Regions from separate parts of the Homo sapiens genome. Here regions 2, 3, 4, 5 and 6 are each linked to region 1. The links come from fine-mapping of genetic effects on gene expression. A gene starts in region 1. Each other region holds a variant in brackets. All regions are shown on one strand. Distances are between the middles of the regions. Region 1 holds the start of CCDC88C (coiled-coil domain containing 88C). Region 2 overlaps PPP4R3A (protein phosphatase 4 regulatory subunit 3A). Region 3 overlaps CCDC88C (coiled-coil domain containing 88C). Region 4 overlaps CCDC88C (coiled-coil domain containing 88C). Region 5 overlaps CCDC88C (coiled-coil domain containing 88C). Region 6 overlaps CCDC88C (coiled-coil domain containing 88C).

Evidence for each region. PIP is the estimated chance that this variant, and not a neighbour inherited with it, causes the effect.
Region 2: its variant is fine-mapped to the expression of CCDC88C in unexposed skin (GTEx, PIP 0.97). The same link has a PIP of 0.9 or more in whole blood.
Region 3: its variant is fine-mapped to the expression of CCDC88C in whole blood (TOPMed, PIP above 0.99).
Region 4: its variant is fine-mapped to the expression of CCDC88C in whole blood (TOPMed, PIP above 0.99). The same link has a PIP of 0.9 or more in atrial appendage, subcutaneous fat, thyroid, tibial artery, tibial nerve and visceral fat.
Region 5: its variant is fine-mapped to the expression of CCDC88C in whole blood (TOPMed, PIP above 0.99).
Region 6: its variant is fine-mapped to the expression of CCDC88C in esophagus muscle (GTEx, PIP 0.95).

Annotation. Positions count from the first base shown.
Region 1 is chr14:91,416,274-91,420,273 of GRCh38, reverse strand. CCDC88C (coiled-coil domain containing 88C) reads left to right here and starts at 2,454. Exons shown (of 30, transcript NM_001080414.4): 1 at 2,454-2,643; 2 at 3,436-3,536. The coding sequence starts at 2,584. It overlaps CCDC88C-DT (CCDC88C divergent transcript), which reads right to left and starts at 2,028. Exons shown (of 3, transcript NR_184261.1): 1 at 1,934-2,028. It also overlaps the pseudogene LOC112268126. RefSeq lists enhancers at 1,039-1,088, 1,329-1,973, 3,579-3,868, 3,879-4,000 and a silencer at 2,039-2,958.
Region 2 is chr14:91,470,907-91,475,844 of GRCh38, reverse strand. It overlaps PPP4R3A (protein phosphatase 4 regulatory subunit 3A), which reads left to right. Exons shown (of 15, transcript NM_001366432.2): 7 at 1-34; 8 at 2,475-2,606; 9 at 2,710-2,812; 10 at 4,850-4,938. Among named protein-coding and RNA genes, the nearest start is that of PPP4R3A, 37 kb to the left of the region's middle. The variant G/T (reference allele first, on the strand shown) is at 2,281.
Region 3 is chr14:91,353,845-91,358,812 of GRCh38, reverse strand. The region is part of intron 4 of CCDC88C (coiled-coil domain containing 88C); the gene reads left to right. Among named protein-coding and RNA genes, the nearest start is that of CCDC88C, 61 kb to the left of the region's middle. RefSeq lists an enhancer at 3,405-3,915. The variant G/A (reference allele first, on the strand shown) is at 2,743.
Region 4 is chr14:91,321,396-91,326,363 of GRCh38, reverse strand. CCDC88C (coiled-coil domain containing 88C) reads left to right here. Exons shown (of 30, transcript NM_001080414.4): 11 at 308-454; 12 at 1,441-1,585. Among named protein-coding and RNA genes, the nearest start is that of GPR68, 79 kb to the right of the region's middle. The variant C/G (reference allele first, on the strand shown) is at 2,248.
Region 5 is chr14:91,371,365-91,376,332 of GRCh38, reverse strand. The region is part of intron 3 of CCDC88C (coiled-coil domain containing 88C); the gene reads left to right. LOC107984673 (a long non-coding RNA gene) reads right to left here. Exons shown (of 2, transcript XR_001750858.2): 2 at 2,082-3,697. Among named protein-coding and RNA genes, the nearest start is that of CCDC88C, 44 kb to the left of the region's middle. RefSeq lists enhancers at 160-832, 2,295-2,364, 3,968-4,580. The variant A/G (reference allele first, on the strand shown) is at 2,660.
Region 6 is chr14:91,390,920-91,395,009 of GRCh38, reverse strand. All of the region lies in intron 3 of CCDC88C (coiled-coil domain containing 88C), which reads left to right. All of the region lies in intron 1 of LOC105370624 (a long non-coding RNA gene), which reads left to right. Among named protein-coding and RNA genes, the nearest start is that of CCDC88C, 25 kb to the left of the region's middle. The variant C/T (reference allele first, on the strand shown) is at 2,091.

The DNA.
Region 1 (4,000 bases):
ACTAACTTACATTATGAGCAATTAAGGAACTTTTTTAAATAAAAGATTTTTAGCCGGGCGCGGTGGCTCACGCCTGTAATCCCAGCACTTTGGGAGGCCGAGGCAGGCGGATCACGAGGTCAGGAGATAGAGACCATCCTGGCTAACACGGTGAAACCCCGTCTCTAGTAAAAAATACAAAAAATTAGCCGGGCGTGGTGGTGGGCGCCTGCAGTCCCAACTACTCTGGAGGCTGAGGCAGGAGAATGGCGCGAACCCGGGAGGCGGAGTTGCAGTGAGCAGAGAGCACGCCACTGCACTCCAGCCTGGGCAACAGAGTGAGACTCTGTTGTCTCAAAAAAAAAAAAAAAAAAAAAAAAGAGAAAAGAAAAAAAGATTTTTATTTCAGATAAAATTAATATTTCCATAATTAGGATACACACATAATTAGCAAACACACATTCTTGAGTCCATTATTTAAGGTTTATTCTATAAACGACTTCCATGAGTATTAGAGATCCTGAATGTCATCTGAATATTTGTCTACACACTTGTGGGCAGCTTCTGTAGACTTTTCTTTGTAGAAATTCCAGTTTTTCTGAATTCTTCCTTTTCCTTCAGGTTTTCCACTTTGCATTATTCATAAAAGGCTGGGTCATTATAGTGAGCTGTTAAGACATTCTTTCAATGCAGAATTTTCTTTCCAGCATTTTACTACCATAAGGATTCCAGAGTTCTTGCAACATTTGGTAAAATCTTGAACTTGTCAGAAGACCTCTCTCTGGCCTTTTCTCTCATTATTTTAGGGATCAAAACATCTTTTTCGACACGTCTGAGCTGCTGCTCCAAAAACCTGTAGTGTCTTCCCATTGTTTTTGGTATAAAAATCAAACTCCTTGAAATGGTTTACAGGACATTTCATGATTCACAACTGAAACTCCTCCACAGCGATGGCACACACTCCTCTTTGATCTCAATTCTTCTTTCTTGTGGTCTTTGCTTAAACCACTGTTCTTTAAATTTCACAGAGCAACCATCAGAGTTGTTAAATTAATCCGCGGGGTCGAGTGCCATCGCGGCGGGCGGAGAAGCAATTAAGGAACTTCTCTAATGAACTTCTGGTGCACAACAAAACCATGTAGTCTCGAAATTTTAGTTCCTCCGCAGTCCCCCATTGTGTTTTATGCTACCCCGCCTTCCACAGTCTCTAGGGACCCCTAACCGACCCCCTTGGCTCTCAGGCCATAATCTCACAACCCTCCCCAGCCCAACGGGGTCCGCCAGCGCTGGGCTGTAATACCACTCGCCACCAGCAGATGCCGCAGCCCCAACGCTGCACAGAGCCAACTTTCAAAATTACCACCGAGCCTGTCGGCAGCCATTTAGTGCCTGCTGTATACTTGCCAAGCGCCACGCAGGGCCCTTCGGGTCAACCCTGTACCAGTTGGCCCAGCTGCGAAATGCGGCGATCGTTAGGGTTAAATTAGTAAAATGGTCTACAGTGCTTTGAACAATGACCGGCTGGTGGTGTGAAATTATTACCAGGCCGAGACCAGCCTGGAGCCGGCTCCTGCCTCGTGCCGTCCCGCAAGGAGGTCCTGCCCCCGGGCTTGCCTTCCAGCCAGTTGGGGCCTTTGCCCTTTTTCCTGTCGCCTGCCACTAAGCTGCTGCTAGGAACCCCGGCTGGAATTTAGCTCGCCTCCGGCAAAGTGGTGGGGGCGGGCCCGGGTCGGGGAGGCCACATCACCTGCTTCCTGCAGGAACTTTTAGAAGGCAGGCAGCCCGGAACATGGCACGGTGGGGCACGGTAGGGCGCGAGGGGCCGCGCCCCTAAGGCCTAAACTCAACATAAAGTTTCTTCTTTGCCCTCCAGCCCAGCCCCAGGGTCGGGGCGCGTTTATCGCGCCGCGCACAAGCGTGAGGAGCGGGGGTTTGCGGGGCCTCTTGACTGTACCTGGGGCTGCACCTGCCAGGAGTGCGGAAAGGCGCAGGGCCGAGGTCCCCAAGCCCAGAGCGGGCGGCAGCTGCGGGCGACCTCGGAGGGCAGAGCAACCTCGGAGGGCAGGGCGTCCCCGCTCCCGGCACGCACCAGTGCCCGCGCACCCCAGCTCGCACGTGGCGCTCGGGCCCCGGCTGCACGCGCACGCGCGCAGGGATGCGCCACGTGCTGGGGCCCCACACGCGGGGAGGCTGCGCTCGGCGAGGGCGCGCGGTCCCACGGGCGGGGAGCCGGGCCCCGCGACCCACCCGCCTCGGGCCACCAGTCCCCTCCCAGCGCCCCGCGTAGCCTGGTCCCGCGCCCGGGCTCCCGGGCTCCCGGGCTGGCACCGCGAGGCGGCGCGCCGGTCGCCCAGGGCCGCCGAGGGGCGGGGCCGCCCGTATTGTTCCTCCCCGAGCGGCTGGCCCTCCCCTTCCCCCAGACCCGGGCGGGGCGCGGGGCCGCCGAAGCCGCGGAACGTGGGCTCGCGCGCCCCGCCTTTGTCTCCCGGGCGCGAGCCGCCGCAGCCCCGCGCCCGCTGCTCGCTGCGGAGCCGTTTTGTGCCGCGGCGCGGGGGAACGGGGACGCGGGGCGGGGGGCGCGGAGCCGGCGGGCGCAGCCTCAGCATGGACGTGACAGTCTCGGAGCTCCTGGAGCTCTTCCTGCAGAGCCCGCTGGTGACCTGGGTGAGTGCGCCTGGCTCCCCGCCCCTTTGTTGGTGCACCGGCTTCTCTCTAGCCCGGCGACGGGACGCCGCAGACCCGACACGGCCGGGGCCCCGGGTGGCTCCGGGGCGCGAGGGACGCAGCAAGTGGCTCCCGGCCGGGGTTGGGGCCGCGTCCTGGAGTCCGGAGCTTTGTAACTCTGGAGCCGGCGCCCCCGTTGTGCGTCCGGCGCGGGACCCCGCCGCGCTTTCGGCCGGGCCAGGAGCCGGGCGGGTACACCTGTTCCCGCTGGGGCTCTAGGCTGGCTGCCTCGGGGCGGACCGGGTCCCAGTGGTCACTCCTGTCCCTGGGGTTTAGCCACTCCCGAAAAGGACCCCATTCTTCCCAACCAAATATCTCATGTAGTTTTTCTGAATCCCTGAGACCAGCCGGTGGATGGCGGTGACGGGTGGGGAATGGGGGGCGCCGAATGGGAAAGCGAACAGACTGGGGTGGGCGCACTGATTTACAATGGATTTGAGACGTGAGACATTTATTGAAAAGTCCTTTTTATTTTTATTTCTTCCGCTCTGGAACGCGGGAGAAAAGTGGCGAGGAAGTTTTTCCTCCTGTCTCGTGTCTGTTGCCCCGCGCGGGGAGGGGAGACAGGCCCTAGGAGAAGGCCGGGCTTGGTGCCTGCTGAAGGGTGGTGTGGGCGTGGGTGACCCCCTTCTGCTCACACTGACCCGTCCAGTCTCTGCCTGGGAGAGCTTTGGACCGTTTGTGCGCACGGGGTGACTTCCTGTCTTTCTCTCCTCGTCCCCCTCCCCGCAGGTGAAAACTTTTGGCCCGTTTGGAAGCGGCAGCCAGGACAACCTGACTATGTACATGGATTTAGTGGACGGCATCTTTTTGAACCAAATTATGCTGCAAATGTAAGTTACCTTCTTCTCGGAGGAAGGAAAGAATGGTGCGTTAGAAAGTTTGAGAGTAGAAATGGAGTGGAAGGTTGCATGGCGGGGTGTGTGTGGGGTGGGGGGTAGTTCTCTGAAGGTGGAGACGCTGGTATCTCAGTATTAACGTGCCTGTTGGACATTCGTAGGTGTTTGAAGAACTCCAGGACAGTGGGTCTGGCAGTTGGTTTGATGAAGGAAATTTGGAATTGAATGACTGTCATTTACGTGGTGTAGATAGTGCAATTGACTTCAGACTCAAGGACTTAATTGTGGTTTGAGCAATGAAATGAAAAAGTCCCCTTTTGGAGGGCAAGGAACTGTAACGGAGAGTGTCTGGTTACAGGAAGTGTCGGGGTGGGCCCAGGCATCCGAGGGTTACTGTAAAGTTTCATTTTAGATGAGGGTGTCTGTGTTTCTGAGCTCCTTTACATTTCATCTTCCTT
Region 2 (4,938 bases), 55 kb before region 1:
TAAGAAGTTAACAGAGCAAAAAATAACCAGCAAGGTAAATATTATTTGTACTAATAGTAAGTATTTATACATAGGAAGCTATAACTGTTTTTATTATTCACTTTTAAGATTTAATTGTTGCTGTTTGGGAAAAGTGTAGCCATAATATCAGACAGCTTATTGTTCCCCTAAATTGGTTCCTGTCTCAGTTTATCAATTTGTCCTACAGCAACTATTTATGTTCATTTAAATTGCCTTTTAAAATATTCATGTCAGTTTTTTTTTGTTTTGTTTTGTTTTAATTCTGAAGTCAACTTGCTATATTGTGTTTTTTAAATCATTTAGTCAATCAATTCTTGTATCTGGGGAATTAAGAGTAAGTTACCTAGGAAAACATTGACTTTAGGGTAGATTCTCAAAATCGCCAAGAATGAAGAAATGTAGCACAGTCCCTTAAAATATGAAGGGTGCTGTTTCTTTACTGCCTAGCCATAGAGAACAAGCTGTTACGTTGTTCACAAACACTCACGTTAGCATCTGAGATATACCAGATTTTAAAGTAGTAGAGAATATATCCTGGTAATGTGAAGGGTGCGCCTGGATCACATAGTGCGTGACATGTGAGAGCACTAAATGTGTGTGCTCTCCTTTATTTTAAAATAATTGAACCAATGATTCTGATTTTTTCCTGCTTCCCCCATAACAATTTGGAAGCAACTTTTTACGTAAGAATGAGTAAGAAGGACCTGCTCTCAGGTCCTTCTTAAGGGAGGAGGGGAATAAAGATCCCCTAAGGAAAAAAAAAAAATCTGTTTAGAATTCCAGCCTGTGGTATTTTTACGAAATAGGAAAATAGACTGTCTTACTTTTTGAAAAGATCCTATTTAATGTATTGTGATGTCAAAAGGAAATGGAATGCCATGTAACTGCTATGTTTAAGTTTTTATTTTTATAGTGCAGGATAGGTGCAAAAAAGCACCAGTTTGAACTGTTGTGTCATGTTTTTCTTTTATAAAATATTAACATCGGCCTCAGCAACATAGCAAGACCCTCCTTTAGTACAAAATTAATTTTTAAAACTTAGATATGGTGGCATGCACCCATAGTCCCAGATACTCAGGAGGATGAGAAGGAAGAGTCTCTTAAGACCAGGAGTTTGACTCTGCAGTGAGCTATGATTGCTCCACTGCACTCCAGTCTGGGTGACGAAGCCAGACCCCATCTCAAAAAAAAAAAAAAATTCTTTGAGAACCAAAGTATCTGTATTATTGAAAATAAAGGCTATTGTTGGTCCCATTAACCCATGAGCTGAACATATGAACATGTATTGATATACCTCAAAATACACACAGTAGGACTCTTTTTTTTTCCTGTTTTGCAACAGAATAACATTTCAGTCACTAGGACTCTTGATTCCCACTCTTCTTAATCATCATTTCCATCTACTGTCTGCATTTTCTCTATCCCTTGTCCATCCTGCCTTTGCATACACATAGGCAAGAGCAGGGATTTTCTCACTGAATCCCTCTCAATCTTATTTACTACTTAGGTGAGGAATACCAGTCATAATAGGACCTCAGGAAAACCAGCCATCTCTTTTCTTTGATATTTAGAATGTGTATAATCCATTTGTTCTCTGCACTCTCTAAATACCATAGTCTCATTTTCTCCAATTTCAGACATTCAGATAATTTTTTCCTAAATTTATTTTAAAAGGAAATTTTATATCACTTTTACAAATGGAGAACATACATCACTGGCCATAAATAGAAGGACTCTATAATAATAAAAGCAATAGACCAGGCACGGTGGCTCACGCCTGTAATCCCAGCACTTTGGGAGGCTGAGGCAGGCGGATCACCTGAGGTAGGGAGTTCAAGACTAGCCTGACGATCATGGAGAAACCCCGTCTCTACTAAAAATACAAAATTAGCCGGGCATGGTGGTGCATGCCTGTAATCCCAGCTACTAGGGAGGCTGAGGCAGGAGAATCGCTTGAACCCGGGAGGTGGAGGTTAGTAAGACGAGATCGTGCCATTGCACTCCAGCCTGGGCAACAAGAGGCAAACTCCGTCTCAAAAAAATAAAATAAAAATAAAAGCAACGAAAGTATTATGATGTTCTAAATCCTACCTAAATATTCTTACTCTTAAAGCTATGGTCATAAAACCCACTGGCTTTCTTCAAAAGGTAGATTACATTATTAGAAAGTTGTAAAGATATATTATCACCAAACTAAAACTTTGCTTTTGCTTTATTCAGAGGAATTTAAAGATAATAGACAAGAAATTTCTATTTAGG[G/T]CTATGTCCCTGTACCACACTTTAGGGAATGAAACACTGTCATATGTCCTGTCAGATAACTGAGTTAAACATTTCACTTTGCAGTTAACAAAACAGCTAGAGCCTAGGTATAATGCTGTGGTATGTGTCTTAGTTTTTGCTTTTTCCGTTCTCTCATAATAAGTGATCCTGAGTATGTCTATTTTTCTCTCCAGGATATTTTGCTCATCAACCTCATTATAGAACATATGATTTGTGATACAGATCCTGAACTTGGAGGAGCAGTCCAGCTTATGGGCCTGCTTCGAACTTTAGTTGACCCAGAGAACATGCTAGCCACTGCCAATGTAAGCCATGAGCATTTCCCCTCTTTTTCATAGCTAGTATATTGTGTATTGCTGGTAGGAACCAGTGTGGTTAAAGTTCATGGAATTGTTCTTGTTTCCTTAGAAAACAGAAAAGACTGAATTTCTGGGTTTCTTCTACAAGCACTGTATGCATGTTCTCACTGCTCCTTTACTAGCAAATACAACAGAAGACAAACCTAGTAAAGGTAAGATAATTCAGGTTGGTAGTTAAGTTCTCTGTTCTTGAATGCTGAATTCAAAGTTGGTGTTAAGTCAGTCTTTTTAGGAGGCAGTTAGTGGGAGGTAGAGGCTGGGAGGACACACCTTTTAAAAAGTAGTAGTCTTTAAAAGTTCAAACCATCAGGTTAACATAGAGGTCTTAATAATTTGGTTGGTTGGTTGGTTGGTTGGTTGTTTTTATCAAAAGCAACCTGGAGAATTAATGATGTATTTTGAAAAGAAAGGTTCATGACAAAAATGTCCCTAAAAGGCCTGTAATCCCAGCACTTTGGGAGGCCAAGGCAAGCGGATCATGAGGTCAGGAGATCGAGACCATCCTGGCTAACACGGTGAAACCCCATCTCTACTAAAAAAATACAAAAAAAATTTAGCTGGGCGTGGTGGCAGGTGCCTTGTGGTCCCAGCTACTGGGGAGGCTGAGGCAGGAGAATGGCGTGAACCCAGGAGGCGGAGCTTGCAGTGAGCCGAGGTCGCCCCACTGCACTCCATCCAGCCTGGGCGACAGAGTGAGACTTCAACTCAAAAAAAAAAAAAAAAAAACAATTTTCCTGAAAGTACTGTAATCAGATAACAGAAACATGTAAAAGAAATAAGATAATTTTTTGTTGAACAATATTTGTATTCAGTTTGCATCTACACTGGTGAAATATAAATAGAAGGCAGTAGCTATGAAAAAATTCATTTTAAATTATTTGTACTCCAGATGTATAGACAGAGCTAGGATTTTTGCACAATATTAAGCTACTTTTATTTATATTGAAGATATGTTAAGGTTTGTTATTTTTGTATTATATTCATTAGAGCTTTAGCGTGCGTGTGCGTGTGTTTAATTTAGGAGGTAGTTTTAGGTCTACATTCAAAAATTGCTTATTTAAGCTTTAGGAGTAAATACATTATTTTGTCATTGGAATTTTTTTTTTTTTTTTTTTTTTTGGAGACAGAATCTTGCTCTGTTGCCCAGGCTGGAGTGTGGTGGCGGGATCTCGGCTCACTGCAACCTCTGCCTCCCAGGTTTGAGCAATTCTCCTGCCCCAGCCTTCTGAGTAACTGGGATTACAGGCACCTGCCACCATGCCTGGCTAATTTTTATATTTTTAGTAGAGGCAGGGTTTTCACCATGTTGGCCGGGCTGGTCTCAAACTCCTGGCCTCAAGTGATCTGCCCACCTTGGCCTCCCAAAGTGCTGGGATTATAGGTGTGAGCCACCACGCCCAGCCTTGAATTCTTAATATAGCATAATTATAGCACTCACATAAAACACAAGTTAAATTTACTTTTTGTGTAACTCCAGAATCAAGTCCATGAAATGTGAATGTCCATTTTTCTTACCTGCTTTATTCATATTAGGTAAAGCTTGAGGCTTCTTTCCAAACCACATGTTCTATTCCTCCAACCTTTATTAAGATGAGAACTCATTGTGATTTTGTGAAGGACTGTGTTATAATCTAAACGTGGGGGAATGAAAAAAAGCCTTTCAGAGGCTTGCTGCCTAGTGAGGAGTAAAGATAAGTCAATGATTATAATTCAGTATAGACTCGTTACAAGTAGTAAAGGAGGCACAAAACACACTGGAATCAAGGGAACAGGGAGAGAGAGTAATTGCACCAAAGATGACACGGTGTCTGGCAAAACCTCATATGCTATATCTGTTGGAGAACATGCTAAGGTACCTGGTAGAGGGTCCTTGAATTTTGGAATAAGGCAGATACTCTAGATTTGTATCATAACTCTGCCTTACTAACTTTTCCAACTTGGGTCTAGTTAGTTAATAGGCTCATAATGTGAAACAGTTTCTTATAGGGTTGTTAAAATTAAATAAAAAAAAGTAAAGCACCATTCCTGGCACATGTTAGGCGTTCAGTAAATGCTAATTTCCTCCTCCCTAAAGTTAATATATTTAGGTTAATAGAAGAGATTTTACTTGATTAGAATTTGAGTTCTTACATTTTAGAAGGAAAAATGTTAGTCATTAAATATAATTAGTTGTGTTTTGTTTCTTTTAGATGATTTTCAGACTGCCCAACTATTGGCACTTGTATTGGAATTGTTAACATTTTGTGTGGAGCACCATACCTACCACATAAAGAACTAC
Region 3 (4,968 bases), 62 kb after region 1:
GACTCAATGAGGCCGAGCGCAGTGGCTCACTCCTATAACCCCAAAACTTTGGGAGGCCGAGGCAGGAGGATCGCTTGAGCCCAAGAGTTTAAGACCAGCCTGGGCAACATAGTGAGATCTCATCTCTAATTATAAAATGAAAAAAAGAAAGACCAAATTAAATGTCCTCCTGGCATCTTACAGAAAGTCAGAACTTAATCTCTGCCTGTCAGATAACTTCCTTGGTGCATTAAATGGAGTAATGCCTTGCGTCCCTTTCACCTGTGTGTGTTTACCTGCACCCATAGCTGGTGGACAGAAGTCGCAGGCCCCAGGGACAGAGTTACTCGCTGGCTAGGACTTCCCTTGTTCTGATGGAGACCTTGTCATCATTTTGAAACCTTAGGTCTGGGGCCTCCTGGAGTAGGTGAGGGGTCAAGGAACACAGGAAAAGCCACACCTGTAGGATGGTAATAAACCGTGAATCCTAAACATTAGAGACATTTCCAAAAGGGACTCGGGCTTCCTCTGTTGGCGTCTCCTCAGCCTGGTCTCACTGCAGCCTGGCCATCCCCTCTCCTGTCCGTATGACAGTAGCTAGTGGCCTTGAGACTTTAGAAGAGTTCACTGAGTAACCAGCCGAGGACAAAGCTGGTAGGAGAGCAGTCTTCTTTTAGTGCCACCGCCCTGAGAACATCAGCAGCGGCTTCCTTGTTCCGTGGGGGCGCTCTTTCTGGGCTCCAGCTGGCTGAGGTGTCCGCCTTTGCATGAGCCAGAAGGAAGAGCATCCCTGGACCCCTGATAGTCTTCAGTGCTCTGGCCTGTGGGCACTCACCGCCTTACATGGAGACCCTGCAGAGGCCACCCCTGGTCCTCCTGGTGGCCCCCGGCAGCAAGCGCCCTCCCCCACTTCCCGTGTTAGTAGCAGGGGGCCTTTGGTTCTGCTCCCCTGCCAGCTCTGCCATGGGGCCATGTGTGTTCCGGCTTTATTTCATGGCTCCCCCAGAGAAGGGCGGGGACGCCAGATGCAGTCCATGCTGGCCACAGCCCTGGGCTCCAGGGACCGGGGGACTCTCATGATTTCTGGTAACTTCAGGGAAGTGGAGCCTGTTTTGCTGAGCAGAACTCTGCCACCTTCCTAGTTTATTTGGGGCTGGTTACGGGAGGAGATGAGAGTGATGCCTGTAGAGGTTGGCGGTAGCTTAGTCCTGTTGTTCTGTCTGCCCTGGAGACAGTGGAGGAGCAAAAGGAGGGGACAGCCACTCCGTCTGCCCTGGAGACAGTGGAGGAGCAAAAGGAGGGGACAGCCACTCCTTAGCACGCCCACCCTGTGCTTGGCACTGAACGTGCGTTACAAATGCAATGAAAGACCGAGCGTGCTGGCGAGACACTAGTTCTACAAAAAATAAAAAAGTTAGCCGGGCATGGTGACACGCACTCATAGTCCTAGCTACTTTAGGAGGCTGAGGCAGAAGGATTGCTTAAGCCCAGGAGGTCGAGGCTGCAGTAAGCTGTGATTGTGCCACTGCACTCCAGCCTGGACGACAGGCAAGACTCCATCTTTAATTAGTTAATTAAAATTTGTATTTAAAGGAATGAAAACGTGCTTCTGTGGTGTGGCTGCGCCCATTTCCGTTTATAGGGAGAGAACTGAGGCTCCGAGGGCTTGGGTGCCATGTCCTTGACCAGTTGGCCTGTAAGCAGAGGGGCTGATTGGAAACCTGCTCTGTCCGCCCCCAAACCTGAGCCTCTTCATCTGTCACACATGGACATCTATGGGTTAGGTTTAACTGTAGGCAATTGCCAATATCCAGTCTTTTTTGACCTATAAAAATGGCATATGGTTGAACCTAATATTAAACGCATCCTTCTCCCCGCCTTTTCTCACCCCTCCCTTTAGCTCCAATGTTACCTGCATAGCTTGCCCACCTTCCTGCTGGTGCTCCCCCTCTTCTCATCCCTGCAGGTGTCTCCCCTTCCACTACCATCTGGAAGCCTGCCCTCTCTGCCCCACTACCATCAGGCACCTCCCAACACCACAGAGATTGTCCATGGGCAGAGAACATAGGTCCGCATCTCAGGTCTGCTGCCAAACAGAAACATCTGTAAAGATGTGGATGCTGATTTTTTTTTTTAACAGCTTTATTGAGGTATCATTTGCATGCTATAAAACACACCCATTGTAAGTGTATAATTCAGTGATTTTTTTTCATAAATATACAAAGCTGTAAAACCCTAACCACAATTCAGTTTTTAGAATGTTAAGAGGAAGCTGGTTTTAGACTGTTGACAGGTGAATTGAATGTCCCTGGGGCCCCCGTGGTATATAATCAGCCCACATGGATCAGCTGGTCCCAGCTCTGAAGGTGGAGTTGGAGAAACTGGACAGTGAGGGCTGGGAAAGTGAAGGACGGGAATAACTCTACCCATCACCGAGGGCTCAGAGGGCCCCGGGCCTCGCTGACTGACATGCTAGACGGTGGCCTCGGCAGGCTGCACACAGAGGGCAACGTGTCAGGGCTGGGGGACGGGGAGCTGGGTGCACGGATGAGTAGGTTTGACAGGGGTCCCATGGTGCTCTGAGAGCAGAGGAGGCTGGCAGCGGACATCCACCAGCAGGAAGATGCAGACACCAGTGCTAGGGGCAGAGGGATGTATTTATGAAATAGCATTTTCAGTTTTAAATTGTAAAAATAGATGTGTGAAGCTCTTTTCGTTTCTTTTTAAACAAAGAACAAAGTTGGTGTTTTTTTAATTTGTATG[G/A]TTGCCCGGGGTGGGGCATGTGTGTGCTTTTTGACTAAATCTATCCCCGTCGTGTGTGAGGGGCTTGCTTTGTACTCTTTTTGATGGATGCTAACACTGTACTGTTATTTATAACGTTTTATAGTTTGGGGTAACTTTTCTGTTTTGGGCACATAGCATCACAAGCTCCCAGATTCCAGATCCCAACAGAGCATCTGGTCCACCCACTGTTCCCCAACACAATGATACTAAAAGACCCTGAGAGTCTACGCATTTGTCCCCTTTCTCTGACCTAAAAAAGGGAGGTGCCACAACTTACAGTTTTTCTGTATGTCTCACTTAACCCCCCACACCCATCAGACAGAAGGGTGTTCACTCTCTTCCTATCCTGGGTGGAAGTCAAGGACAGTGCAGTAACTATGAAACAGTACTTCGTATACTGAAAATTGCTTTTGAAATCTCTCCTCAGCATCTGCCCGTCCCGGCCCAAACTCCTCACTCCCTTACGCTGTGTCTGCCCTGGGACCGTCTCTGGATTTCTGCTCTGATGGTGCTGTGGTTTTGCAGCTCACTCTCAGCTGCACCCACGCCCCCGGGGAGGGGAGGGTCTGTCTGGTGCCTCACTGCTGTAGTCTCTGCTTCTCCGAGCACGGCCTGGGCTCTGGCTGGACCCTGCTTGAACCCCGCCCTCACTTTTATATGACGGCTCTTATAAGAGCCTGCCCCCATAGTGAGGCGGTGTGCAGGCTTCTGGGGCCTGAGTGCCGTAGAGCGTCCTTCGCCTTGTTTCCCCTCAGCCATCCTTATCCTTCCCTCTTACCCGTGTCTGCGCTGTCGCCTGGTGTCCCGGGTCTACCCTCAGTGCACCCCCAGAAGCCGAGCTCTCCTCTGCAGCCCTCCTCACCACCACCAGCTCCCCTGCTTCCGCCTGGCTGCTCCCCAGGGCAGTGTCCTCACCTCTGCCCCCTGCAGTCTGCTCCCAGCATGGCAGCCCGAGCAGCCCACTCCTCAGGTCAGCCGACTGTCATTTTGCAGCCCGCTCCGGGCACTAGGGCCTGTGCACCTGCCGGTCCCTCTGCCAGCGAGCTGTGTAAACACCTCCTGTGAGCCCCTGTTCAGTGTGGCCCCACCTGTCTCTCCTGCCACACGCCCTGTCTTCTTTGTTCTGCTCTGCTTTCCCTTCTCCATATCTTTTGGCACCTGTGAATAGCCTATACTGTTCACTTATTTTTTCCCCTCTGTGGCATTGCATACTTTTCCCCCGTTAGGGTGCACGCTCTCATGACAGCAGGAATCCTGGGGTTTTTTGTTGTTGTTGTCAGTGCGTTCGAATGCCTAGATCAGTGTCTGGCATGTAGTAGGTGCTCAGTAAATACAGCATCCATGCAGGGGGCCCACCTTTCTCTCTTCCTCTCTCCACTTTGCTCTCCCGTCAAGCTGGGGCCCCTGACAGGTGTTACCCACTTGCTCTCATAGATAAGAAGGCCAGTTGTCAGTGGTCAGGGTCAAGTGAGATTCATTCTCTGCCCAGTACCACGTGTCTGTCTCCCCTAGGCCTGAGATGACTCCCTGAAAACCGCCTTCACCATCTTGCCAGCTGCACAGCTATTAAATATCTTTCGCGGTTACTGGTGAGTGTTTTCTACAAGAAGCCTGTGAGAAGCAAGAGCTCACGTCTGTGCTGTGAGGGAGGATGCTGGATGGAGCTAGACCAGCTCCGGGGTCCCTCCAGCTCTGGCTTCTCAGCATCTTGCTCAGCAGCCAGGCCTGTCACTGTGCCACACGCACAAGAAAAGACTAGATTTGTCTGACGGGAAGCCAGGGTGTTAGCAAATTACTTTCTGCGATGAATCACAGGACAGTTGCACTGGAAGAAAGCATTGTTTTTTCTTCCAGGGTTTGTATCCAAGTATAGTAGTGGTTTCCAGACTTACACATGGCCGATCCCACCGAAGCCATTTAGAATGGAAGGGAACGAGCCATTTAGGTGTAGAAGCCCAGCCCAGAGAGCGGAGGAGCTCATTCAGAGGCACACAGCATGGAGGTCCCCATAGGCGCAAGACAGATTTCACACCATAAATTGCACAGATGGTTACTTTTGTGGACAGTAAGCCACTGGTTCCAAGCAAGAGGGTTACTGTCACTGGTCTGCCCTGATGTTTCTTACATTCTAAATGCCAAGCAGGATTCCTGGAAGCCCTGGAGGGGCTGCGACTGCATATGCACACCCTACAGGGTCCTGTCTGA
Region 4 (4,968 bases), 94 kb after region 1:
GCAGGCGCCTGTAATTGCAGCTACTTGGGAGGCTAAGGCAGGAGAATTGCTGAACCTAGGAGGTGGAGGTTGCAGTGAGCTGAGATCGCGCCACTGCACCCCAGCCTGGGCGACAGAGTGACATTCCGTCTCAAAAAAAAGGTGAAGATGATAAAAAAAAAAGTAGAGGAAAAACTTCCTGCCTCGGACTTCCCTCTAGATTGTTTGCTTGGGTCCAGATGCCTGAAAGAGTTTTGGTTTTAGAATTCCATCCTAATGACCCAGGTGCCTTTATCTGATGGTTCTCATGTATGTTTTTGCTAACCAGGAGCTGAGAGAAGATAATATCATTTTAATTGAAACCAAGGCCATGCTGGAGGAACAGCTGACTGCTGCTCGGGCCCGGGGCGATAAAGTCCATGAGCTGGAAAAGGAGAACCTGCAGCTGAAATCCAAGCTTCACGACCTGGAATTGGTACTGCAGGCTGTGTTGTTACTACATTGAAAACAGATTGGGCTCGGGCACAGTGGCTCATGCCTGTAATCCCAGCACTTTGGGAGGCTAAGGTGGGAGGATCCCTTGAGCGCAGGAGTTCTAACCCTGGCAACCTAGCGAGGCCCCATCTCTACGAAAACTAAATAATTGGGCATGGTGGTGTGAGCCTGTAGTTCCATCTACTTGGGAGAGACTGAGGCAGGAGGGTTGCTTGAGCCTGGGAGGTTGAGGCTGCAGTGAGCCGTGATCACACCATTGCATTCCAGCCTGGGTGATAGAGCAAGACCTTGTCTCAGAAAAAAAGAAAGAAAGAAAAGAAAACCGATTGGGGCAGGTTCAGGTTTATGGCGTGCCCTTCTCTGATAGTTTAGCTACTGGGTTTGTTGCTGCTACTGCCGTTGCTGCTGCCACTGCTACCACGAATGACTTGTTGACTGCGGGGAGTAGCTTGCTAAAATCAGCAGGCTTGAGCGGGTGCCACTTAACACCCACAAACAGAGCACTTGACTTCTGTATTGCTTTTCTGTAGGAATGAGTGTGTGTGTGTGTCTTGGAAGAAGGGTCTTTGCCAGTGTTGATGGTGTGGGGTGAGCTGTGATTTGTTAGCCTGTTAACAGCTTTAGAGGCCTGTTAGGGCTTCGCTAGAGCCACAGAGCTGCCCATCACTGCACACTTGCTTTAAAGCCCTGTGCAGTATGTCACTTTGTTCAGACAGCATTCAGTTAGGGACCCCGGCCGGGTCTGTCTTCATAACCTAGGTAGCCAGGTCAGGGTACCTTTGAGTGGCTTTCCCTCTCATAGCAGGGCCCTGTGTTGGGATGTTTCTGTGCAGCTCTGTTTATTTGGAAGTGAGCCAGTACATCTTCATCCACAGCACATGACGGTAGCTATACAGGGGCTGAGGCTTGTCCAGGGGGATCTCCAGCTGTGCAGCCTCACTTCTTGCCTCTTCTTGCTTGCCCCAGGACCGGGACACAGATAAGAAACGAATTGAGGAGCTGCTGGAAGAAAACATGGTCCTTGAGATTGCACAGAAGCAGAGCATGAACGAATCTGCCCACCTTGGCTGGGAGCTGGAGCAGCTGTCCAAGAACGCAGACTTGTCAGACGGTAGGTAGCGCCTGGTGCCGGGGAGCCAGCCTGGCCGTGGCCGCCGCTGCCTCCAGGGAGCTGAGTCCTGGGCTCTGAATCTGCCATGTTAGCCCATCCATTCATCCCAGGCAAACATGATTTCCTTCAAGCTCCACTTGGAACTGTTTCATTACAGTTCTCCCCAGGGAAGACACGAGGGGTCTGGCAGCCTTGATGTCAGGACGCAAAACACAAATTAAGTGTTGCCAGTTTTCCGAATTCCCATATGGACATTCCCGGGAGCTTCCAGATTATAGTGCACTGACACCCAGAGGCTCTCTGAGGCCATCTGTGGATGGCTGAAAGCCCTGGATGGCAGGAGCCATCACCAGTGGCCACGAATCCCTGCTATAAATGTACCCAGGGCGTCATTTCCTCCATTCATTTGCATAATTGGGCAAGATGGAGGCAGCCTGTTTTCTCTCTCCTGGGTGGGGAGGGTGCTGAGTGGCTGCTGCCCCGGAGACCCAGGTTCTTAGCGCCTCTGCCAGGCCTCTCCCTTTCCCTCTTCCCTCCTGGGCTTGCTCTGCTGCCCACTGCCCCGCGCCCCGAGAGGAGGTGTCGGTCATGGGAAGCGTGGGCGGGGCCGCACTCAGCCCCCTGCGCAGGAAGCCTCAGCCCCGGCAAACAATGAGCCAGTT[C/G]CTGTGTTTGAAAATAGCACACGCTCACCGTTCCCGTGCACGTGATCGTGCAAGTTCATAGTTACTTAGACTTTCCAGGGTGTGATGGGGCTTTTGGCTTGTTTAGTGGGTGGCTTTAAAAAATTCTGATAGACATCTAAGCATTCTGGAAAGGTTATTGGAAACAGGTGAATATTTCTTGCATTTGGGGGTTCCTATCAGTTCCGAACCTAAAACCAGTTTCACTGTGAATCTGTGTGAGAAGTTAGCTGTCTGTGCTTTGATATCTGTGCGTAGTTCTGGGGCCTGAGGGCTGCACAAGGGGGTTCCCCCAAATCCCTTGCCTCTGGAAGTCCAAGTTGGGGGCGCCCCCTGGTGGAGCAGAGAGGTGGTACAAGCAGCTAGGATGGTCTCTCATCAACTAAATATTTGTTAGAGACCATGGTGGCTGGTGAGAAGGCCTCACCGATTTAGACCATTTTCTATAATGTGTGAGCTCTTTAAAGTTAATACCGTGATTTATTCTTAGTGTTGTCAACTCCTAGTGCCTAGCTAGGAGCTGGCATCATTCTAGTGTTTGCTAGAATGATGGCATCGTGCAAGCAAAGCCTGAGTGTATGGGGCAGTGGCTTCGAGAGCCAGAAAGACCTGGCATAAAGCCTTGGCTTCTCTGCTGGTTAGCTGGGTGACCTAGGGCAAGTACTTAACCTCTTAAAACTTTAGTTTCCTTACCTGCAAAATAGGGGTAATGAACCTGCCTCACAAGATGACTGTGAGGATGAGTGAGAGAAAACAGTGAAGCAGGAACCCCGGCTCTGGCCCTTGGTGTGTTCTGTAGAGGGCAGCTCTTCTTGTCTGTCTTACTAAGACATACCCAGTTACTCTGGTTGCTGGGGGGTGCTGACGAGATTTGCACTAGTAAAGAAACACTGGGCCGGGCAAAGTGGCTCATGCCTGTATTCCCAGCACTTTGGGAGATTAAGGCGGGCAGATCACTTGAGGTCAGGAGTTCAAGACCAGCCTGGCCAACATGGAGAAACCCCGCCTCTACTAAAAGTACAAAAATTAGTCAGGCGTGGTGGTGCACACCTGTAATCCCAGCTACTCAGGAGGCTGAGGCCGGAGAATCGCTTGAACCTGAGAGGTGGAGGTTGCAGCGAGCCAAGATCACACCACTGCACTCCAGCCTGGGTGAGAGAGTGAGATTCTGTCTCAAAAAAAAAAAAAAAAAAAGAGAAACACTGGCGTTTTAGTAGTAAACCATTGTGTCGTTTTAATAGTCTTCAAGGCACTGACTTTAATGGAAGAGGAAATGAAACATCGATTCCATTGTTTAACTCACAGAACCTTAAAAATTAATCTCTGTGGTCAGTTTGGGAAGGTGAAAAGGGATGGTGGTGATGGTTGCAGAAAAGTGTGCTTGTACCTAATGCCACAGATCCAAACACTTTAAAATGGCTAAAATGGTACTTTTTAAATATATTTTTCTGTAATTTTAAAAATGGGTTCACCCCCATGAATTCTGCAGAGACACTGTCCAGATGACCACAGGTTTTGAAATAATGGAGTCTTATTTGAGGCTTGGTGTTGAAGTTAGGTTAGTTTCATTTACAGCTTATTTGGGATGGAGCCCTCCAAGCGTCCTTGTATGTGGAGTGTGTGTGTGTTTATGTGTGTGTCAGTGCTGGGCTGGGGCCAGGTACACACCATCCCCTCCACTTCTCGCCTGCTGTTGGTTTGGGTCTTTAGGGCGTTCTGGCCTGTTGGGTGGTCCATGTCGTTATCCTTGGTAGAGGATGAAGACTCAGAGGGAAACGAGATGCTGTTCAGTCTTTATGATCACCCGGGGAATCTGAACCACACACATTTCCAGATTTATGTGTTTGCTGTGAAAGCCATCACCCCCCTGTACCCACAGCCCCTGGGGTGAAGAGGTAGGGGGAGGAATCGCTGTATTAGCAACAGTGTGGAAAGGCCCCAAGAGATGAGGACGTGGCACTGGGTTGGGTAAATGAAGGGGGGAAGAACCGGGCTCCTTTCTTAAGAGGGCTTTTGCATACCTTTTTTTTTCCCCTCCCCAAAACAACCCCATGACTTACCTAAAATCATGCACCTGCTTGTGGCAGGAGGGGGCCAGGAACTCCCATTCCTGACTCAAGACTCTTCCCTTCTCCATTTGCACCTGAGCTGTTTAAAAGCAGAGTAGATAGTCTGCCTTTTACTATTTTTAGCTTATTTTTCATCTCATTTAGAATTTTAAAAGTAATTTGCATACACTATCACAGTTTTCTTCAACATAATTGTGAAGTCACAGAAAGAAATCTCTGCATAGCATCTCATCCAGGCTGACAAGTGCCCGACACATGTTCCAGTGTAGCTTTCTACCACCCATGGCCAACGGGAGTGGTCAGTTACGTGCCCCTGCCTGCTGAGCAGCCGAGATGTCCATTATGCTCTGGGGGGTATGGAAAATGTCACCTGTGTGTCATCTCTGTTAGCCTCTAAAATCCTTGATTGGACAGTTAGGATAGCAGCCTGATAGCCAGATGGTTCCCAGAAGTGACACAGCCCTTGCATTGGCTCCTGGACTGTAACCTGCCGCCTTCTTGAGCCCTGGATTGCTGCCCTGACAGACCCCAGCAAAGCCTGCAGAGGAGCCCTCGGGCACTGGGAGTGGAGGGGCAGGAGGAAGGGTCCCCAGCTGACCTGTGGGAGCTCCTCCCCAGCCCCTTAGACCCTGGA
Region 5 (4,968 bases), 44 kb after region 1:
GCAGTCATGAGTGTGCAAAGCGCAGAAGATGGCGACCAAGGTCAGGGAGCAGGAGCAGACAGCGCCCCCACCACCAGCCAGACATGCATATGCCCGGCGACGAGCACCTGGGTGTTTCAGGAGGCTCTGAGCTCACAGGAGAGAAGCCTGACCTATGATCGTCACCCTGTCCTGGGGGGCAGCAGCGGGAGTGACAAGTGTGGCCTTTCCTGGCTGCCACAGCCTAAAGGGTCCTCTGCGCCTGCCAGCTCCTCAGGTCTCCTCCGCAGATACATTTGGGCTGCTGGCTGTTGGCTGACTGGGTTCAAGCCTCTTCTCCTGTGAACTCGCGGGGCTGGAAGGTCTACGTTTCCAGCCCCAGCCTCGCCACTTGTAGTCATGTGACCCCAGGGCACATCCTTACTGTCTGTATCTCAGTTTATTCCTCTGTAAAATGGGCACAGTTACGGCACCTGCCCCATTGAACGCAAGAAGATGCATGCCTGCTGGAAAGGGTCAGATCAGAAGGAGACATTTGCCCCCCACTCGCCCTGAGGAGCCTCGCACAGGGAAGGTGCTCCGGGCACGGACAGGGTTGAGTCTCCCCTCATCTCGTGGCTTGGGCTGGAAGAGTCCACTTGCTGCCGAGGCAGGGCTGGCACAGACTGCCATCCTGCTTGGCTTGGCCATGGGAACAGCTGGTGAGGGTGCTTTTATTTGCCTGAAGTGTGGGCTCTCGGCCGGCCCTGCGGGGAAGCCAGAGCAGCTGGTCTGCCTCGTGAGCAGGTGCCGGGGCGGGTCTGTGCGCCTGCCCTTCCCTCCTTCCCCGAAAACGCTCTTTGATTCCGCTGCCCACCCCCCTCTTCCCCACCTCACCCACATCTGAAGAAAAGCTTCCCTACTTAAAGGAAAAAAGGAAGAATAAGCTTCATCTGATTTGATTTTTTTTGGAGTCCTCAGGTCGGAGCCTCACACAGCAGGGGTCCAGTTGGTCTAATTGAAGGGCATTGTTTCTGTCCCAGTCCTTTAGATTCAGGCTGTTCACACAGCCTGTCTCTCTCTCTCCCACATGCGCGCGCGCACACACACACACAGACACGCGCGCATGCTAACCCTGGGGCCTGTGGCCCTTCATTAGCTCATTTGGCAAATGATGGCTGAGCCCTGCTGTGTGCCAGGCCCTGGGAGAGCCCTGGGGAGCGAGACCGCCCAGATCACCACCCTCAGGAGCCCACAGCCCAAGAAGGAGACTCGAAGAGTAAGGCTGGTTTAGCAGAGGAAACTCAGTCTGTAGCTTCGTAACTAGTGAAGAGAGTTCCTGGTGTTTTGCCCACATCCCCTCGGCATGTTGTATACCACATACGTGTTACAGTGCCTGTCCCATTGGGCTCCGTAAGGGAGTGTCACCACATCTTCATTCCTGGCTCTGACAGGCACCATTGACCGATCTTGGCCCTCTTTGTCTCTGAGCCCAGATCTGGCCTCAGAATCCTTCTCAACACAGAACTCTAGGTAACCACTACCAGTCATCTGTGCCTGGAACCCAAGCTTAAACTACCCCTGGGATCACAGTGAGTTACTTGTGTGAGACTTCCTTGTGCCTCCTGAGGCTTCGGAATGAGCCTGACTGCAGAGACCACTGCAGATGCTGCCAGACTGTTGGAATGGCCTCAAAGGTCGGTTGGGCCACCCCAGGCTCTGTGCTCAGCAGGACTGCACGGCCTGTTCTGGCTGTAACCCCTTGCCCCTGGCTGTTCCCTCTGCCTGGGATTCTCCAGTTCCACCCGTCCACCTGGCTCACACCCTCCCTACACTCGCATTTTGTTCAGCTGACGATTCATCGAGGGCCCTCTTTGACCACCTGTCTGTAAGAGCTATGTTTTCTGTCACTTCCTCCTATGTTCCTTTATTTTGCTTCTTAACACACACATGTGACATATATTTACCTCTTTAGCCCTCTCATTTACTCCAATATTCCAAGCAATGAAAAATACCTATTGATCAAATGGACCTTGCATTAGCAGATACCTGGTGGACTTAACCCTGCTACTGCCTGCAAGAGTTAGGATGAGAGGTAATAGACACAGTGTGTCTAGCCAAGCTCCTGGTTTATGCAGCATGCTGATTTATTGCTGTTCGAAATAAAGTGTTCTTTACACTGTAGATGGGGGAGGGTGCGTTTAGTTGGAGGTCCCAAAAAGCCTCTGTTCTCACCAGAGCCTTCCTCCCCGCAGCCAGTTCCATTTAGCCAGCAGCTGGCAGGCATCTGCTGTGGGCCACACTGTGCAGAGCCCTGGGGGGATTCAGAGGTGAGCATGTTCCAGCATCTGCCCTGGGGACCCTGAGGATCTCAGTTCCCTGTGTGGGACTCAGGCAGGGACACGAGAGAGGGGCCTGGGGGCACTGATTGCTGAGGAAGTGATCATTGCCGGCGGAGGGGTTTGAGGAAGGCATTGGAGGCAAGTGTGGCTGGACAGAGAGGATTTTGTCAGGTGCGGGTGGGCAGGGGACCGGCTGGGCTGCCAGGTCACCTCCAACCCCTGCCCACCCCCCAACTTGGACAGCTGCTGCAAAGTTGATAACATCTTTTGAGATTTTCACTTCCTGCCGAGATATTAGTCATTAGAAACTTGTCACTTCTGAACCTTCCTCCTCCCCGGCTTTTCAACTGTGTCCCGAT[A/G]TGCCCTCCCCCAGTTTCCTGCTATAGAATACATTCTTGGTGATAGAATAGAGAGTTTCTTGCTCTCTAGATGAAGTCTGATCTTTTGCTGCAAACTCCTGTAATGAAAAGAGACCAGTTTGCATGAAATGTCTGCTCTGCTGTCTGTTTCCTCCAGAAAGCTTTTTTGGAGGAGCGAGTGGGGGCTAAGGAGGGGTAATTACAGTCTTATTTATCCATGCTGGAGACTCATGGTTCCCATGTGTGTAGAATTTTTCCTTCTCTTCATCCTTTGCTATTTGACCAGCACAAGTTCTGCTTGGCCCCAGGCAGATGTCACTGATGAACCGTGGCACACTTGCTCCCAGGGCCAGACCTGCCCCTAGTGTTCTCAGCATAGCGTCCAAGCCAGCTCTCTTGAGTCCAGACCACCATAGGGCACTGGTATCGTGTGTGTTTTTCTTGGCCCTCCTGAGGCCAGAGGGAGAAGAGAGAAGGTGGCCCCAGCAGATGTCCCAGCTCAGTTCTTCCTCCTTGGTCCTGAGCCCAGGGGCTGGGGACGGTTTGTGCATTCCTGGGGATCTCTAGAATGGACCCCACTCCTCGCACACACAGGTAGCTGGGACTGTCTTCCTTTATGGGCTCACTGTGGTGACTGTGGCTTCCTGTGTTTGCCCCCTGCAGAGCTGCCCTGTGTTGAAGCAGGAGGGAGGATGGTGTGTCGCCCCGGAGCATGTTGAGAGCACAGTGCCCAGCAAAACCTGACGGCTAGGAAAGGCCTCAGGTTCAGCCAGCACCTCCGGGGGCCTGACTTCATGCCAGGCACAGGCTTGATTGTCGCTAGGTTAAGTGATGCCTGCCTGCCCGGCCACCTGCCTTTCTGGCCACCTGGCAGGGCTTGATGCCGAGGCCCAGCAGCAACGTGGTGGTGGAGCCGGCAGAGGGGACTCCAAAGCTGCTGCTGTCACCGTTTAGATAACGTGCAGACAGGGCTGGGTCCAGACTCCCTGAACGGTGGTTCTGTGCACATCTGGTTCTCAGTTGTCCTTCATCGTGGGACTGTAGCCAGAGACACAAGATGGGGGCACCTTCTGTGTCTTCCTTTTCCTTTATTCCTAGCCCTCCCTGCACTAACACACGCCTCCCCCCCCCGCCCGCCCCCCCCCGCACCACTGCCATCTACCTGGATGTCACCTGCTCCTTGTTCTTTCCCATTTCAGCTTCCGGCCACCTCCTTCTTGGAGCTTTTCTGGATTCCCCGCTCTCCTCTGCTCCCAGTGCCCCCAGCTCAGGTGCCTGCCATCCCTCTGTTAGGGTGCCAGACTTGCTGGTGGGATTTGCTGGTGGGATCAGGCTGTGAGCTCCCCAGGACAGGGCCTGGCCCTATAGCAAACACCCTGGGCCCCTCACTGTCCCCCATCCCACAGGCTTTGTCCTCCTTGTCTTTGTTTCCTGGCTTTGAGGGTAGCAGTCTTGGCTTCATACCCTCCACCTCCCAACTGGCATGCCATCAGACACCCAGCAGGTGCCCGGGAAGTGTGGCATAAATGAGAGAGGGAATGGCTGCCCTTCCTCAAGGAGCTCTCCCTGCCCTCCAGATGCCTGCCCTGGGACACTGGACAAGGAGGCCTGGTCACTCGGGAGTGCTGGTACCCCTTGTGCTGTGGTGCTCGTACCCTGAGGCCTGGGCTCAGGTTGGGGCGTGAGGTTGGGGGCTGGCTGCCCCCACTGCCTGCCTTTCCCACCCTCACAGGTCCCAGCAGGCTGGGGTGGTCTGGGCTGCCATCTACCGCTGGAGGCTCCTAGGTGCCCTCCACCATCCTGCTCCGACTTGTGCCTGGGAGTGAAGCGGCATTGTCAGGCCACCGGGTGAGGGCTGCCAGGGTGTGGCGTGGCCCCAGCCCTGCCCTGGCATAGGTGCCTGTGGGCCTGGGTGGGTGAGCGGTGGAGTGGGACATGGGACACTGTGTGGGCAGGCGCCACGTTCCCCCAGCCCAGCTACTTGCTGGGACGAGGAAGGCCTTGCTTCTGCTGAGCTAGGGAGGGTGTGCCCAGGACAGATAGGTGCCTGCCCAGGAAATCAGCTAGAGCCACCCCTGACTGGAGGGTGTGGGAGGCAGTCTTGGTCCCAGTCTGTGACTCCACAGGCTCCTCGGGACCAAGACTGTGGTCTTGGTCTGTGCTGTACTCCTGCCACCGCCGGCCTCTGTACTCCTGCCACCGGCGGGTGAGGTTGGCTGGGCCTGGACAGCACATGGCTCCTCCCATGGGACCACTACACTCATTCTGGCTGGGGGGGTCATGCCTGTCCCAGCCCACCCTGCATGCAT
Region 6 (4,090 bases), 25 kb after region 1:
CAAAGGCCTTGTACTCAGGGGACACGTGGGTGGGAGGGGAGGATGCCCACCCGTCTGGCAGAGGGGTGGCAGGCAGGCCCCCCACCCAAGGCCCGTCCCCTGGCCACTCTGTGTTCATTTGTTACTGAGCGGATTATCCAAGGACCCCTCCCGGAGTAATGCGCTCTGATTCATTTGGATTAATCTTGCGAGTGTGCACGTGTGCCTGTCTCTAGCCCTGCACGTTTTTCTCCTGTATGATCGTTTTATTTTAAGCTGAGTGACTTACACATATTATCTCATCAAAGGAAGCCTCATGATTTTATCCCTCACCAGCAATAGAATTCCTTAAAAGCAGGCACTGAATCTTTCTGTTTGTCTGTCACACCAGCATGGAAATGTGTCTGCCGTCAGTCAGCATGTGTTAATGACAAGATACATAACAACGGAGGCCACCATTCAGTGGAGTAAATAATTCAGAGAATAAGTCATTACAATCAGGGAGCACGGTGTCACACCAGGCCTGGGCCGGGAATCCTGTCTCTAGGTTAAAATGACCCTGCAAAGTGCCCCCGACCTGCTGCCCTTTCTAGACTGTTGAATAATTAGAGGATGGGGCCTGCCTTGTTCCTCTGTGTCCCTGACACATGGCAGGGACCCAGACCCTGACTGTTTAGAGGGTAAACAGGGGTAAACCGGTATGGAGGTGCAATGCAGTGAGGGGGCTGGGCTGGAGCTTAGGGCTCCCCTACTGTTTTCACGCAGACCTGTAGGCTTTTCATGTGGTGTTTGCTTTGTTGATGGAAATGCCATATGTCAGGTACTGGGAGGCTCAGTCCCTGGGGGGTGGAAATTAAATTGATTGTTTTCAACTTTGTCTAGCCAGCTTGGCTCCCCTGAGCATTCTAAGGTTTAGGCTGAATGACTTTAAAATTTTAAGACTAAAATTTTTGCCTCCTTTCCAAACCTTAGTAACCAGACAGGCTCACCTTCTGCCCAGCAAGTCAGATTTACGTGCCTTTAAAGTGTGGAATTGTGGCTACTTAAAGGACAGAAACTCCGGAGCAGCTGGCACTTTTTGTGCTCAATTGGTCTTCTAGCACCCTGTTTTTAGGGTGAGAATTTGTGGCATTCAGATTTTACGGAGTAGAGCTCATGAAGTTGATTTCTTTTTTTTGAGACGGAGTCTCGCTCTGTCGCCCAGGCTGGAGTGCAGTGGTGCGATCTCGGCTCACTGCAACCTCTGTCTCCCAGGTTCAAGCAATTCTCCTGCCTCAGCCTCCTGAGTAACTGGGATTACAGGCATGGGCCACCATGCCCGGCTAATTTGGTATTTTTTAGTAGAGATGGGGTTTCACCATGTTGGACAGGCTGGGAAGTTGAATATTTCAGGTGGAAATGGACTAAGTTGCAGAGGCGAGTATCCCAAGCTTAGATGCCAGAAGAAGGAAGCGTTGGTGGTTTCTGAGAACTCTGGGCTATTTTGATAACCACCTGGGGCAGTTAATCCAAAACAGGTAGTCCAGACCTTCAGAGGAAGCCAGATCGGGGCTGAGGTGTGGGCCGTCTGGGAGGGCGCTTCTGTCTGTACCCCTTCTCCTACCTTGCCCTTGTTTCTTCCTTCGGGAGGTAGAATTCGCTCAGGTTGCCTCTGCCTCATCTGCCCCTCTGCCTGCAGGGCTGGGGGTTTAGGGGGTGGGGGGGCTCCCATCCTACTTGCGGACAGAATAGCTGGCACCTGGACCTGTCATCTCCCAGCTCAGCCTCTCCCGGGGCAGCTCCTCTTGTCCTCCAGGGCTGCCCTGACACTGGTGTGACCTGGGGCAAGCGGCCCAACCCCTCCTAGCCTGTTCCTCTTTTGTCAGATGGGGGTGATGACTGCACTCCCCTCCCTGGGTTGCAGTGATTCTGAGAGAGCCAGTGAGCGATTGGTGCCTGGGAAATGCCCAGCCCAGTGCCCAGGGGCCGTTTCCGGGAGCGGACTCCGGTACTGTCTCTCCCTCTCCCGCTGCCTCACACGTCCTGTCCTTGCAGTTTCTCCTTCCCCAGCACCTTTCCTTTTTCGCTATGTGAGGCCTTGAGGACTCTCTGGAATTTAACATCATTATCGC[C/T]GTCATCACACCCCTGGCCCTGACTTGTTTTCTCTGTGTCCCACCCTACATTGCAGACTCACTCAGGGCGGGGACTCCGGCAGCCTCTGCCTCTCCCAGGAAGTGCAGTGAGGGGGCTCAGTGAGAGTGAGGGGTGCAGTGAGAGTGAGGGGCGCGGTGAGAGTGAGGGGCGTGGTGAGAGTGAGGGGGCTCAGTGAGGGGTTGCAGTGAGGGGCCGCCCTTGCTGGGGTCCCTGGTGCTGCCTTCAAGAACTCCAAAGGGCCAGGTCCTCGGGCTGGGCTGGGCTTTAAAATGTTCCTTCTTTTATGCATCGCTGGTATGGAAACCCTGGGTTATTATCGGCTCTGGGTTTAAAAGATGAGGTAAATTGATTTCTAAAGGCAAAGCCACTTTGACAAGCCTTTTGATCTCATTCCTTTTGAACAGAAAGGAATTGGAAATGTGACCAGCTGAAGCCTCTCTCGTTTCTCTTTCCCCTTGAAAAGGTTCTCCTCCTCTAGCCCTAATTAAGGTGTCCTTCCCTGCTCTGGGTGGTTGAAGCCAGCCCCTCGGAGCTCCATGTCCACCGACTCCCACCTCTAGGTTTCCTGGATAGGGATTTTTGTTGTTGCTTTTGTTTTGTTTTGGCAGGGTTGGGGGTGGCATGTAGGAAAGGGTGATCTGAAGCCAGAGTTTATAGAGCATGTTAAGTTCTGGGTCTGTTTGAACTCCTCCTAGGTACAGGTTCAGGAAGGGAGAGCTGGAACCTCTGGAGGTGGCCGTGTTCGTGGGAACAGGGTCAGTGGGAGCAGCTGTCATGGTGGCCATGGGAGCTGCTACCCTGGAGGCCCCAGAGGCACTAGAGAGTCAGGAACAGCCAAATGGAGCCAGGGAGTGAACTCATGAGGCAACTTTGAGATCCAAGTGTATGTTCAGATTTAGTTGGAAAGAGTTTAGAAAGTAGCTGGATTGCGTCACTGCACTCCAGCCTGGGCGACAGAGCAAGACTCCGTCTCCAAAAAAAAAGAAAGTAGCTGGAAAGCGGACTTTCAGCTCCAGAGTAGAGTAAAAATTTTAAAAACAAGAAAAAGGAATATAGTACACTCAGGAACATGTAACTTCTGGTCTTTTAGGAAGCTGCCTCTTTTTTCTTTTTCTTTTTGAGACGGAGTCTTGCTCTGTCACCCAGGCTGGAGTACAGTGGCATGATCTCAGCTCACTGCAGCCTCAGCCCCCTGGGATCAAGCGATTCTCCTGCCTCAGCCTCCCGAGTAGCTGGGATTACAGGCACACGCCACCACGCCTGGATAATTTTTGTATTTTTGGTAGAGACGGGGTTTCACCATGTTGGCCAGGCTGGTCTCAAACTCCTGACCTCGAGTGATCTGCCCGCCTCGGCCTCCCAAAGTGCTGGGATTACAGGTGTGAGTCACTGTGCCCGGCCTACTTCTGACTTTTAAAAAGCAAGAAACACAGAGAGTTATTTGTGTAAGGGGTACAGAATTTCAGTTCTGCAAGATGAAAAGAGTTCTAGAAATGGATGGTGGGGATGGTTGCACAACAGCATAAATGTATTTAATGCCACTGAACTGTACACTTAAAACTTAACCATTTTAAGCTTTTTTTTAGGTTATGCATATTTTACCACAATTAAAAACGGGCACCCAGTGGGTTTTTTTTTTTGTTTTGTTTTGTTTTTAGCAGGAAGAGAGTTTGTACTGTGAGGATGATGGTAAACTAAAAGAACTGTGTTCTGCATTCCCTGGGTCCAGCATGAGGCTCAACACACAGGTGCCAGTGAATGGGCAAGCTTCTCAGGCTTCTAGAACATTCTGGTGTGTGGCTGCCATTGTGTTAAGCGCTTGGTGTTGAAGGCAGTGGGTGTTAGGACTGCTGCTAAGAATCCTTACTTCCTTCCCATTTCAGTCTTCACCTTCACTAGGTGGCATTTATTCTCATCTCAAAGATGAGGAGACAGAAGTTCAGAGAAACCAAGGACCCTGGGAACCTTGTCCCAGAGC